Linked DNA regions of Homo sapiens. The protein of the gene in region 1 purifies or fractionates together with the protein of each later gene. This does not show direct contact. Each region holds a gene or a part of one and is shown in the gene's direction. Other genes may lie near its edges.

Evidence for each region. The genes of interacting proteins can lie anywhere in the genome.
Region 2: the proteins of RNF111 (region 1) and SMAD3 purify together in Homo sapiens (affinity purification with western blotting; 5 studies listed by BioGRID). This does not show direct contact.

What each region holds. Positions count from the first base shown.
Region 1 is NC_000015.10:59,074,569-59,081,666, forward strand, and holds part of RNF111 (E3 ubiquitin-protein ligase Arkadia), read left to right. Parts: intron 1-1,385; coding exon 1,386-1,647; intron 1,648-6,367; coding exon 6,368-6,716; intron 6,717-7,098. UniProt on the Homo sapiens protein: E3 ubiquitin-protein ligase. Required for mesoderm patterning during embryonic development. Acts as an enhancer of the transcriptional responses of the SMAD2/SMAD3 effectors, which are activated downstream of BMP.
Region 2 is NC_000015.10:67,180,602-67,187,601, forward strand, and holds part of SMAD3 (mothers against decapentaplegic homolog 3), read left to right. Parts: intron 1-639; coding exon 640-852; intron 853-4,125; coding exon 4,126-4,263; intron 4,264-6,418; coding exon of another isoform or gene 6,419-6,529; intron 6,530-6,763; coding exon 6,764-6,908; intron 6,909-7,000. UniProt on the Homo sapiens protein: Receptor-regulated SMAD (R-SMAD) that is an intracellular signal transducer and transcriptional modulator activated by TGF-beta (transforming growth factor) and activin type 1 receptor kinases.

The sequences.
Region 1 (7,098 bases):
TTCATAGAATTGAAGAGTTAGGGCCTTGCTCTGGCTTAGGCTTTGGCTTAAGAGAATATTGTAGCTGGTTTGATCTTCCATCTAGATCACTAAAACTTTCTTTAGATCAGCAATAAGGGTGTTTCAGTTTCTTATCATTTGTGTGTTCACTGGAGTGCTTTCAGTTTCTTTCAAGGATTTTTCCTTTGCATTCATGACTTGGCTAACTGGTGCAAGAGGCCTAGCTTTTGGCCTCTCTGGGCTTTTGACATGCCTTCCTCACTAAGCTTAATCATTTCTCGGTTTTGGTTTAAAATGAGAGATGTGCAAATCTTCCTTTCACTTCAATACCAGAGGCCATTAATTGGCCTAATTTCAATGTTGTTGTGTCTCAGGGAATAGGGAGGCCCAAAGAGAGGAGAGCAGGGTAATGGGGAAACATCTGGTCAGGACACACATGTTTATCTGTTAAATTTGTTGTCTTATATGGGCACAGTTCTTGGTGCCTAAAGCAATTATAATAGTAACATCAATGACTACTCATCAAATATCACCATAACAGATAAAATAATAATGAGAAAAATGTAAATATTAAGAGAATTACCAAAATGTGACACAGACACAGAGTTTCCACATGCTGTTGGAAAAATAACTCTGATAGACTTGCTTGACACAGTGTCGCCACAAACCTTCAATTTATTAAAAATAAAACAAAAAACCCCGAACATCTGCAAAGCACTAAATGTGCCTATAAAATGCAATAAATATGCCTATAAAAGGAAGCAGTGCTTTAACTTTTTTTATTCTTATGTTTTTGAACAAGTGAAAGCTTTGAGTGGCAAAGGTAATTCATGATTTAGTCTGAAAAATCTTATGTCCATTGTTATTTTGAATAATGTAGATTTGTTTATTAGCACTTTAATTGAATTCTTGCTTTATACAGTTTGGAACTTGGGGCAGACAAGATTTTTCCTAGAACCTTAATATTTTCAGTAGTGTGATAGTATGTTTTCTCAAGGAGTCCTAAAGTACTAGTCACAATGTTGGGATAAAGGAGAATATAGAAGTATGATTTTTAAAGTTTCTAAGATGTATTTGTTATAAGACAAAAAGATTTTAATATATTAAACTTTTGTTCATCTTGTGATAAAATCTTATGCTTGATTTTTAAAAATTGGTTTAACTGTAAAACCACTACAGTTTTCACAATCCAGGATACACTTGTTATATTCAAGATAACCAAGTATTTTGTTGGTGCTCACTGGTTCTTCATACTAAGAATCTTCCTGGTTTCAAACTAATTTAAAGATTATGTTTTTTTGGTTATATTAGGAATACTTTTATAATATAACATGAAATATTTGACCAAACTTTAGAAAGATAAAATATACTTCCTTTTTATCTAGCAGGCATTGCCAGTGGACCTGAGCAACAGTGGTATCAGAAGTCATGGAAGTGGCAGTTTTCATGGAGCATCTGCATTTGACCCCTGCTGCCCTGTTTCTTCCTCCCGAGCTGCAATCTTTGGCCATCAGGCCGCTGCTGCTGCCCCAAGTCAACCTTTATCATCAATAGATGGCTATGGATCAAGCATGGTTGCGCAGCCCCAGCCCCAGCCCCCTCCACAGCCCTCTCTCTCATCATGTCGACATTACATGCCACCCCCTTGTAAGTATATACTTAGTGGACACAAAATCTAGAGTCATGTCAATGAAGCATTTTGTACTTCCTTATGAAATAACCTTTAATCCCAGTTCTTAAATTTTTAGTATTTACTTGGCTTAAGAGTAGGGTATATTTTTTCCCATGTTAGTATTATGTAATTGAGGTGGATTGAATGGAAGTTTTAAGGAATTTAGATTTGTTCTTTAGTATAGCTGAAGAAATGTGAAAGTTGAGTAGTATTTCTAGGCACAGTAAAGTAAATTTTTAAGAATTCTCAAGCAGTTAGCTGAGACATAACAGCAAGCTTTGGGAGTTGTAAAAGGATTTTTATATTCATTTGATGCAGGCAATTAAAATATAACCATGGTTGGGCATGATGGCTCACTCCTGTAATCCCAGCACTTTGGGAGGCCAAGGCAGGAGGATGGCTTGAGGCCAGGAGTTTGAGACCAGCCTAGGCAACATAGTGAGACCCCGTTTCTATAAAAATAAAATAGAACCAGCCATGCCTTTTCTAAAGAAATTGAAATTCGTTAGATATCACAAGAAATGATAAATACTCTAAGGCTATGTAACATATTTACTATTTTGTTAGATCATAAGCTAATAATGAAATGAAAGCTTAATAAACACTTGGCTGATAAACACCAAAAATTCATGCTGGAAATGAACCAGGAAGTCAGCAAGGAAATTTGTGTTTTGTTTTGATTACATGGCAAGTGGTAATTTTCACTTACATATCTTCTTGGATTTTTTCTTCTACTCCAGTCATTTAAAAAAATCTGCATCGTGCAGACGCAGCTGGAATCAACCCAGAATCTGTACAGTGAAACTGGTGATATATTATTTACCTTCTCAGTAATGCAACTTAAAATTTAAAGTATAAATTGGAAAACATTTAGCAAGTTTTTACAAAGCATTGACCAATGGGCCAATTCTTTGTATGAGCACCAGTGTGATGCATGGCCTATTTTGTAATACTTGATGGTATTCATTTTTGATTGATCATCTTTTATTTGAAATTCAATATGCTTAATTTTCTGCCCCTCCCCTTTAAAAATAATATACTGAAGCAGTTTATGAGTAAGTTCATTCCTTTCAAAATGTCCTAATAAATACATGTTTTAGATTCATTTGTTATATTCTAAAACATTCAGACTGTGCAGTCATATAAAATGAGAATTTAAAAGCTTCCTCGCACAGCTTACTAATCTTAATATATCAGAGGTAGTAACTGTTCTATAAAAACTTTTAGAAATTTTCTTTGTACACATAGATAGGTATATGTCTTACCTTTTAAAAATGGGAAATCAAACATATTCTACTTCTTGTTTTTTGTTTTTAAATTTAACAGTATATTTTGATTTTTGCATATTAGCACATAAAAATCTAGCTCATTGGTTTTTAATACCCCCATAATATCCATTGTATATTAAATCAGTCTTCTGTTGATGGACATTAAAGTTGTTTATGGTTGAGTTTATGTATAGTTTAACTTCCTAGAAATGTGATTGCTATGTCAGAGGGCTAAACTTTCAGATAAATACTGTTAAGTTTTCTCTCCAAGGGGCTGCATCAATTTACACACCTCATTAGGAGTGTGTTAATGAGAATGAAGGTAGGAAATTTAAATTGTATTATTTTCTGTTAGAGACATTTTGATAACTCTGTTTTGGGCTTCTTTTCCTGAAGGAGTGTGTGTATTCTCTCCCCAACTTGCCCGTGCTTTTAAAAAACATTTCCCGTATGCTTTAGTTCACGTGTGAAACATGTGGTTCTTAAACCTTTTTTCATCCAGAATGAACTGGGGAAGACAATATGGCATAGTAGAGCACTAGCTTTAGAATTGGATAGATTCGAGTTGACCTCCCAGCTCTGACTAATTAGCTTGGTGACTTTGGATAAGTTATTTAATCTCTCTGTCCTTACATTCTTTGCACTTGTAAAATGGGAATAATTCCTATTGGCTATAAATTGTGATACTTGGATCCAGATGAATAGTTTGCTGTTTCATAAGTACATTTATATGTATAACAACAATACTTGTGGAGTAAGAATATGTCTCTCTCTGCTTTTGAAAGGTTTGTGGTCTTGATGAAGTGATAAAACAACTGTACTTGAAATGCTATTATTTAAAAGTTTTACTATCTTATTAATAAGATGTATTGAGAAGATATGTAAGGCCTGGCTTGGTAGTATGAGCATGTAGTTCCTGCTCTTCAGGAGGCTGAGGCATGGGGATTGCTTGAGCTCAGGAGTTCAAGGTTGTAGTGTGCTGTTATCACACCTGTGAACAATCCTTGTACTCCTGCCTGGACAACATAGTGAGAACCTGTCTCTAAAAAAAAAAAAAAAAAAAAAAAGACCAGGCACAGTGGCTCACGCCTGTAATCCCAGCACTTTCGGGAGGCCGAGGCGGGTGGATCACCTGAGGTCAGGAGTTCAAGACCAGCCTGGCCAACATGGCGAAACCCTGTCTCTACTAAAAATTCAAAAACTAGCCGGGTGTGGTGGCAGGTGCCTGTAATCGCAGCTACTCGGGAGGCTGAGGCAGGAGAATTGCTTGAACCTGGGAGATGGAGATTGCAGTGAGCTGAGATCACACCACTGCACTCCAGCCTGGGCGATAGAGCGAGTCTCCCTCTCAAAAGAAGAAAAAAAAAAAAAAAAGAGAGGTATAGGTAAGGCTACTTACGATTAATCATAAAGCAAATGGTCTACACTGTAAAGCTATGGGAATGCAGTGAGTAAATGTTGGAATAAAGCATAGTATTACATCTGCAAGTGATATGTTGAACGTCTAGGAAACAATATCAAGAACTTTTTTTAACTGTTGGGAACACAAATAGAGGAAGGGAAAGGGTTTTTGGGAATGTGGAATATGTCACTCTTAAAATGGTCAGCAACCTGTTTTGTTTAAACAGTGAATTAAAGTGATGTCTAAAGAGTAGTTAAATAAATGGACTCATTCTGAAACAAAACTTCTTGCTTTGTAATATTTGTGAATGTTGTATAATGATTACACAAATATAAAACTTTGCAACTAGAAAAAATGCTGTGAATTTGAGAAAGGATAGTTAACAATCATAAAACATAGTGGATTCATTTTTTATGATTAAGAGCTAGCTACTGAGCTTTGTGCCTTCTTGAAGAGTAAAGCATTGATTTGAAAACAGAACTTTTAGAAAATTGGTTTAAAAATTTGTCTTGCAACTTTTAAAAATTAGATTTGTTGAAAGTTTCCTTTAAGTACATGCTAACAAGGCATACTTTGAAAATATAGTTGAGTTATTGTTACCTAACTTCTGCCCTTGCTGAATGAATCAAAAGCATTAAAAATTGAAAACTTCTGTAATGAAACTAGAGAATGGCTGTTGGTCTATATCAGACTTCCAAGAACATCTTCCAATAAAATGAAATTTGTATTGAAATCTAAGACAAACTTTTTTTTTTTTTTTACATGTCAAGTAGATGCACATCTCTAAGAGTAAGGAAGATGTGTATTCCTCAGAGAGATTTTTCAGCAGTCACTTTGAAACATAAAGATGTAGAATGAAGAAATGGTAGGAGCCATCTTATTAAGGACTTTACGTCCATATTTGATGGGAAACAAATAGGTCTCCTTCACCTTAATGTAGCACAGGAATAATGACATGGGGTAGGGAGAGAGAGAGACAGTTTGGAAAAATGTTTACACCCTATTATGACAGAGCTTCCATATATGCAAATAATACTTACAAGTCAATAAGAAAAAGGTGAGTAATACAATAGGCTAAGCATGTAAATAGATAATTCTGAGAACACATACAAGCGGTCAAGAAATAAAAGATTTTTCTCAGATTGGCATTTATTTTAAAAATTTAGTGGTAATGTGGGGGTAATCAGGCCTTCTTGTGTGCTCCTTTTTTTTTTTTTTTTTTTTTTTTGAGGTGGAGTCTCACTCTGTCGCCCAGGCTGGGGTGCAGTGGCATGATCTCAGCTCACTGCATCCTCCACCTCCCAGGTTCAAGCGATTCTCCTGCCTCAGCCTCCCTAGTAGCTGGGATTACAGGTGTGCATCACCATGCCTGGATAATTTTTGTATTTTTAGTGGAGACGGGGCTTCGCCATGTTGGCCAGGCTGGTCTCGAACTCCTGGCTTCAGGTGACTCTGCCCACCTTGGCCTCCTAAAGTGCTGGGATTACAGGTGTGAGCCACGGTGCCTGGCCCTTCCTGTGTACTCTTGATGGAAATATTAATTATGGCAACCTTTTGGAAAGGGTATTTTTATTAACTGGCATCTAAATTTATTTTTTTCTTTCTGTCCCACAACTACTTACAGGAATTTATGCTACAGAAATGATCTCTATATATGTGTGTATACATGTGTGTAAATGAAAGAGTGAGTGCAGGAGTGAGCATATACACAGATATTTATCATAGCATTTGGGTTTCTTTTTTATCAGTGGGGATTTTGTCAGTACATTTTGGTGTGTTCATATAATAGAATGTTGTGAAGCTGTGAGTGAAGTTAAACTATAATATATATATTGACATAAGATATCCAAGATTATTGTAAGAAGGGAGCAAGTTGCTTGAGCAGTTGCTTGAATACTTTACTTGATAAAGTATTCATAAAAATAAAATACTAATATGTTTAAAAGTACACTAGGAATGTATAATAGCAATATATGTTCAACTGCATGGTGCCTATGTAACATACTCAAAATATTTTTCTTGCAGATGCCTCTTTGACAAGGCCACTTCATCATCAAGCTTCTGCCTGCCCGCATTCTCATGGAAACCCCCCTCCTCAGACTCAGCCTCCGCCTCAAGTGGATTATGTTATTCCTCATCCTGTACATGCTTTCCATTCTCAAATATCTTCTCATGCAACATCTCATCCTGTGGCACCCCCACCACCAACTCACTTAGCCAGTACAGCTGCACCAATCCCTCAGCATCTTCCTCCTACACACCAGCCAATTTCGCACCATATTCCAGCCACAGCACCTCCAGCACAGAGACTGCATCCTCATGAAGTGATGCAGAGGATGGAAGTTCAAAGGAGGAGGATGATGCAGCATCCAACGTATGTTTTACGTTTTTAAAAAGAAAGTCAAGTTTGCTTTTTCTTCTACTTCCATTGGTCTTTACAACTCTGAAATCCAACTAGGCATGGTGGCATGCACTTGTAGTCACAGCTCCTTGGGAGGCTGAGACAGGAGGATTGCTTGAGCCCAGGAGTTTGAGTCCATCTGGGCAACACAGTGAAATACTGTTTTTTGTTGTTGTTGTTTTCTTTTTTTAAAAAAAGAACAAAGAACAGCAACAACAACAAAAAAAACCATGAAGTCTTTAGAAATAATGTAACTTGTAACTATAAGCTGGGTGAGGCTCATTCCCGTAATCCCCAGTTGCTCAGGAGGCTAAGGCAGGAGGATAATTTGAGCCCAGGAGTTCAAAGCTGAGCT
Region 2 (7,000 bases), 8.1 Mb from region 1:
GCAGATGATGCCTGGTGTGTCCACTGCGCCAACATGGGGCGCTGTTGGGAACCCACTCGGCTGCTGCAGGCTTGGAAGCTGCTGCTCCACAGGCTGGGAGTTTTTGCCCCCAAGGCTGTGCAGAGCCAAAATCTGAAAGCCCTTTTAGGGGCAGGGATTAATGTGGGTTACTCTGGGGACCTTGCAACAGAGGCTGAGAGGTGACTGTGCAGGAGGTGTGGCCTGCCCCACAGTGAGTACACGCAGTGGCTGTCCCAGGTTCATCCAGGTACTGGGTGGCCCCTGGTCCTCTTCAGGTTTGGCCCAGCCCCTCCTTGAAGACTCCTTCCATCCAGTCAAGGCCAAGCAGGCGGGGCAGGGCCTTTATGAGCTAAATAAATAAATAAATAAATAAATAAATAAATAAAAAGAGAAATCAATGGCCCTTTACACACAAGGCTGATGGAATCTCCTCCAGACACCTGAGCATCTTGTTCTGGTGGCTCTTGCCAGTTTTATACGATAAAAGGCATGGGGTAGGGAGATTATAATCCCTCTGAAATGCGGGGAAATGGTTTTCCAGAGTGTCCATGGGACCCCATCGAGGGAGCATGGGGCTTGGGACACCCAATGACCCAGTAGCCCACCCTGTGTCCACAGACCTGCAGCCAGTTACCTACTGCGAGCCGGCCTTCTGGTGCTCCATCTCCTACTACGAGCTGAACCAGCGCGTCGGGGAGACATTCCACGCCTCGCAGCCATCCATGACTGTGGATGGCTTCACCGACCCCTCCAATTCGGAGCGCTTCTGCCTAGGGCTGCTCTCCAATGTCAACAGGAATGCAGCAGTGGAGCTGACACGGAGACACATCGGTATGGGGTGGCTCCATTCCCCGCCCCCCCACCCTGCCCCTGCCACTCTATCCCACCCCCAGCCCCAGGCCTGAACACACAGCCTCTGAAGGGAACCTTGCGTCCATCCTTAGCTGTGCTCTGCCTCCTGCTGGGCATGGGGGAAGACTCACTGCCCCAGCAAGTCCCCTACACTCTCTGTTGCCCTGTTTAGGGGCCAGACAGGTAGTGTTCAGGCCACTTGATCATTCCCACTCAAAGATATAATCTCAGAAAATCTGGAAGCCACAGAGGAAAATAGTTCATCTAAGGGATCAAGAAGGGAACGTCTATGAGAAAGGCAACATATGAAATCTATTTTTTTTTTTTTTTTGGAGACAGAGTCTTGCTTTATCCAGGCTGGAGTGCAATGGCACAATCTTGCCTCACTGCAACCTCTGCCTCCTGGGTTCAAGCGATTCTCCTGCCTCAGCTTCCCAAGTAGCTGGGATTACAGGCACCCAACCACCACGCCCAGCTAATTTTTGTGTTTTTAGTAGAGACGGGGTTTCTCCATGTTGGCCAGGCTGGTCTCGAACTCCTGACCTCAGGTGATCCACCTGCCTTGGCCTCCCAAAGTGCTGGGATTACAGGCGTGAGCCACCGTGCCTGGCTGAAATCCTCTAAATAAAAATACTCTGAAAGTACAGATGGATAGGTTGATAAGTAGGCAGTCATTGTTGGAAGAGTGATCTTCTCTTATTTTCATGTATCATTATTCTAAACAATTTAGAAAAGGTAGAAAAGAATTGTCCACTATCCAAACACCACTACTGTGAACCTTCTGCCTTCTAGCCCCCAGAACATAAGTAAAAGATGACTTTGTGAGTTTAAGGAAGATGAAGCTGTGTTACGCATCACTTGGTTTGCTTATGAAGTTATCAAGCTTAGAGGATTTTACGATCCAGAATCACAACTGTCAGAACTTAGAAGGGCTGTAGAGAGATGGCAGAGTGAGGTTTTCTCAGACCTTGTCCTGGAGCCCCAAGGGTTGGCAAAGGGTTCCTGCGGCAAACTCAGGAGGTGGGCAGGTTAGCAAAGGGAAGCCTGGTCCCACGTGAACCAGGGCACCTCTGCACTCGCTTGCTTTATATCTCGGGCTCTCACAGAAGACTTCATTTGAAGAGAGGATTGATTCTGTAGTGAAGAGAAGAAAAGTTTGGAGGCCATGGGCCTAGGTCTGTGCTCTCATTTTCTAGGAAAGGGACCTGATGTCTAGGGGGTTGGGGAGGGTAGGGAACGGCTCTGCAGAGACCTCATTGTCAGTGACAGACAGCCACCACTACCAGACCTGTTGTTCCCATTTCGCTTTTTGTTTTTTACTTCAAAAAAGATACTTATTCTGGGTGGCATACCACTGTTTGATTGATTGATTGATTTAGAGATAGGGTCTTGCTATGTTGCCCAGGCCCAGTCGCAAACTCTTGGGCTCAAGCTATCCTCCCATCTCAGCCTCCTGATTAGCTGGGACAATAGGCATATACCACTGCAACTGGCTTTTTTCTATATTTTATTAAAAAAAAAAAAAAATATATATATATATATATATATATATATATATTTTTTTTTTTTTTTTTTTTGGAGCGGGGAGACCAAGTCTCGCTCTTGTCTCCCAGGCTGGAGTGCGATGGCACAATCTTGGCTCACTGCAACCTCCACCTCCCAGGTTCAAGTGATTCTCCTGCTTCAGCCTCCTGAGTAGCTGGGATTACAGGCATGTGCCACCACACCTGGCTAATTTTTTGTATTTTTAGTAGATATGGGGATTCACCACGTTGGCCAGGCTAGTCTCGAACTCCTGACCTCAGGTGATCTGCCCGCCTCAGCCTCCCAAGGTACTGGGATTACAGGTGTGAGCCACCATGCCCGGCCTATTTTTTTAAGTTACTGAAACGAAACAAACATTTTTGGTCTGGGTCTTCGCATCCCCACCTCTGCCTTCTGCTCTTACTGACATGATACAGTTGTGGACAGCCAGGAAGTCATCCCTCCTGTGGACTCTGAGCCACCAGCACCCTGCAGAACTAAAGCCAGAAAAAATGGGGAGTGGTTGGAGGAAGGGGACAGTAGTGGGAATAGGAGGCAGGACAGGGGACATCCAGTGATGCATGGGTCGGTCACCTCGTGTTCATCCTACCGGATGCTGGGCCTGTAATATCTGGCTCCGTGTTCTGACCTCTGAGCTTCTTCCCCAGGAATGGAGCAGAGACTTTGCCATGCAGGAGAAGGGACCATCCCCTGGCCGAGCAAAGAGCTCATTGTCAGAGTTTACGCAACTGTTTGAGTTGCAGAGCCAATTTAAAAATAATTTCTGTCCATCTGGAGTGGATTTAAGAGATGAAAGAAAAGTAAATGATATAAACCTCTGGAATGTTTTAGAAAAATGCATTGAGGGAAGAAAAAAATAAGGGCATAGCGTTAAACCATCCCTGCAATAAAGGGCTCCTTGGGGTGTCTGCTGCATCAGAAGGAGCCCTGCAGGTTTACTGAATGAATCTCTGAATCTTGGAGTGTGAAGAGACCAAATAATAGTGGGGTAGTAGTAGCAGTAGCAGCAAGAAAAGCTGACACCAGGCACTTACTGTGTGTCTCACAGTAATCCTGCAAGGGTAGAGGTTATCATCATTCCCTTTTTTTTTTTTTTTTTGGAGTTAGGGTCTCACTCTGTCTCCCAGGCTGGAGTGCAGTGGTGTGATGGGAGCTCACGGCAGTCTTGAACCCCTGGGCTCAAGCAATCCACTCACCTCAGCCTCCCAAGCAGCTAGGACTACAAGGATATGCCACTATGCCCAGTTAATTAAAAAAAAAATGTTTTTGTAGAGATGAAGTCTCATTACATTGCCCAGGCTGGCCTTGAACTCCTGGCCTCAAGTGATCCTCCCACCTTGCCCTCCTAAAGCTCTGGGATTATTGGTGTGAGCCACCGCGCCTGGCCCCCATCCCTATCGTAGAGACAAACGAAGACTCAGAGGGTGAATAACTTGACTGAGGCCCATGCCTACTCAGTGGCAAAGGCTGTCACTGAGACCTATCCTGTGTGCCCATCTCTTGTCATCTGCCTCCCTTGGCTTTAGGAATCCGGCAGTGCCCATTTCCCCTACTTTAGGCTTGGGCTTTGGGGCCCGTTTGCCTGGGGAAGCTGGCAGTCACTGGGAGCAGCTCTGCTGTTCTGCCTCCTTTGCGAGCCTCAGGTGGCCCCAGGGCCATTGTGTGTGAGCAAAGGCACCCTGTCCAGTCTAACCTGAATCTCTGTAGGAAGAGGCGTGCGGCTCTACTACATCGGAGGGGAGGTCTTCGCAGAGTGCCTCAGTGACAGCGCTATTTTTGTCCAGTCTCCCAACTGTAACCAGCGCTATGGCTGGCACCCGGCCACCGTCTGCAAGATCCCACCAGGTAAACGAGCCGCACAGGCACCCCTGCCTTGAGGTCCCTCTCCGAGTGCATGCCTAGGATGCTGGAGAGAGTCCACCTTTCTCACCTTTTCTGCTCACTCATGATTGCGTTGTCAATCTGGAGGTGATTGGATTAGGTTTTCTCTATGCCCACAGATCTAACTGTGCTTTCCCTGAACTTCCAGGGAGCAGATGTAGCATCTGATAGGTCTGCCTTTAACCTGTGGGTACCTGCCTGTTGCCCTGTGCGTAGATGCTCAGGCAGTATGGCTTCCTTTCTTCACTCATTCATTGCACAAACAGCATGCAGGGCTCTGTGCCAGGTGCTGTAGGGGATGAAGAGGTAGATGCGGCCCTGCTCTGCCCCCGCAGACCTTACAGGCCTGCAGAGCACAGAAGACAAAGACACGGATGAGTTCAATATAAGGGACGGGTGCCAAGCACCAAGCCAGCAGCCCAGGTAGAGAGAAGGCCCATTTAGCTGTTGGGATGGATCAGGGAAGTCTTCATGGAGGAGAAACATCCGGATCCTGAAGGATAGGTAGGCACTAGGCACAGGGAGGGCATTCTAGACAGGGGGAGCAGCCCAGGCAAAGGGCCTGAGGTAATGGAGGGCAGGACATGGATGGGTAGCTCTCTGGCTGGAGGAGGGTCATGTATGAGACCGTCAGGGGAAATGTTTCAAAAGCACAACAGCATGAGGCCGTGGAAGGACACCAGAGAGTTTGACTCTAGGGAACTGCTGAGGGTTTTCTGAGTGAGCCTGAAAAATCCCACCTGTACCCCAAGAAGAGGTGTCAGGCTGCACCCCCGAGAGTGGTTTGGACAGGGCCACGCCTGGACAGCAAGATCAGGCAGGTGGCTGATCCCATCTAAGGCCTCTTTCCTCAGGAAACCAAGGCAGAAAGCCCCAGCCAAAGTCCACTTTTCACAGGACGTGCAGCCACTGTGTAGGCAGCCCACAGAACATGGCCTGTGACAGACTAGTGGAGCAGGTAACCTGGCCAGGCCATTGCCTGTGGCACGTGTGTGGCATGCCCCTTCCTGCCCACTGAGTAGCAGATGGTAGTGGAGAAGTGGTAGACCACAGGCAGGGGAAACTTTAGAATGCAGAAAGTCTGAAATGATAATAGCACACCAGGTTTCCAGAGCATTTTGTGGTTGCATTTATAGAGTACATTCCGATCGTTGACCTCATTTAGTCCTCACCAGTTATTCTCTGGCTCTATAAGTAAGGAGACGCTTTGAGAGACAAGTTCAGAGAGTTTCAGCCACCTGCCCAAGCGCACACAGCTAGTAAGTGGCCAAGCCGGGATGGGGCCTAGGGCTGATGGACTCTCAAGTTTGGTGCTCTTCTGCTTCTTGGCTCTGCTGGGGGTCAGGGCCCAGGTTCAGCCCTGTTCCACCACCCTTGTCCTTGGAGAGAATGAAGAAGAGGAAGCTCAGTGACGCTCTTGGCCTTCTGCCTCTTCCATTCCCCGGCCCCACCCCCATCTTTTGGGTGAGGGCTGAGTTGGCTGTGGTGTTGTTTGTCAGCTCATAGAATGTCAGAGCTGGAAGGACCTCTGAGGCCAGCCCTTCATTATACAGAGACACAGGGTCCCCAAGAGAAAGCGACCAGCTCAGAGTCACACAGCAAGAACAGGAGCCTGCTGTTGGCTCATTCATAAGCGTCACCCCGGCTCACCTTTTGGCTATTTCCAGCATGTGCTTTTGTCTTTATTTTTCTGGTTGACACATTCCTGGCACTCAGGCAGTAAGACTTCAAACGACATTTATTTTAAACTTTATTTGTGACTGTCTTTAGTTTTACTGTCTGGAGAATCAGATGCACACCTTCACTTAGCTGTGAATGTCACCTCCACCCAGCCCAGTGCCCAGAGGCCAAAATTTGGCCCAGATCTCTCCTTACCTCCTAGCCCCAGCACCAGGTGTATTCATCAGAGGAGCCCAGGTGGAGGGTGCACTGGGCCCTCTGCCAAGCTTCCTGTGGGGACGGCAGGCCCAGTAGCCTTTCGGCCAGCCCGTCTCTGGGGGCACTGCCTGCTGTGGAACGGCCAGAGCTCCTGTTCCTAGGTGGGTGACCAGACCCCACACAGCATGGGCAACCTGGCCCAGGTCCCTTATCTCTCTGTCCCCTGGTCCCTTTGCCCAAGGAAAGGCCCCCCTCTCCACACCATCTCCCTATTTTTGGAAGCCCTCTTTGCAGACTTCTCCCTGCTCTGGGAGTCGGAGCTTGTGGGCCAGCCTTCCATCTCCCCTTGCAGGTATGTCAGTGGCACCTCCCAGTGAGGAGATGGGTTCAAGGGGAGGGACTGGGTTGGCCTTCCCTTTGCATGGTACTGAGTGTGGAGTGTGTGGCAAATGCATCACACACCATGTGTCCCTGGAGCTGTATAAATGAGGCTGGTCTAGGGGGTCCAGGACTTGCTTTATCCAGGAGGGGAGCAACGGACCTGGCCACTTCCATCCCCACAGCCCTGTTTCTGTGTTTTTGGCAGGATGCAACCTGAAGATCTTCAACAACCAGGAGTTCGCTGCCCTCCTGGCCCAGTCGGTCAACCAGGGCTTTGAGGCTGTCTACCAGTTGACCCGAATGTGCACCATCCGCATGAGCTTCGTCAAAGGCTGGGGAGCGGAGTACAGGTCAGTTATGGGTGCTGCCTACATCAGGGGACCCAACTCCAGGTGACTCTGGACAGCAGAGCAGGCAGGGCTCCTCAGAGATGAGCTAGGCC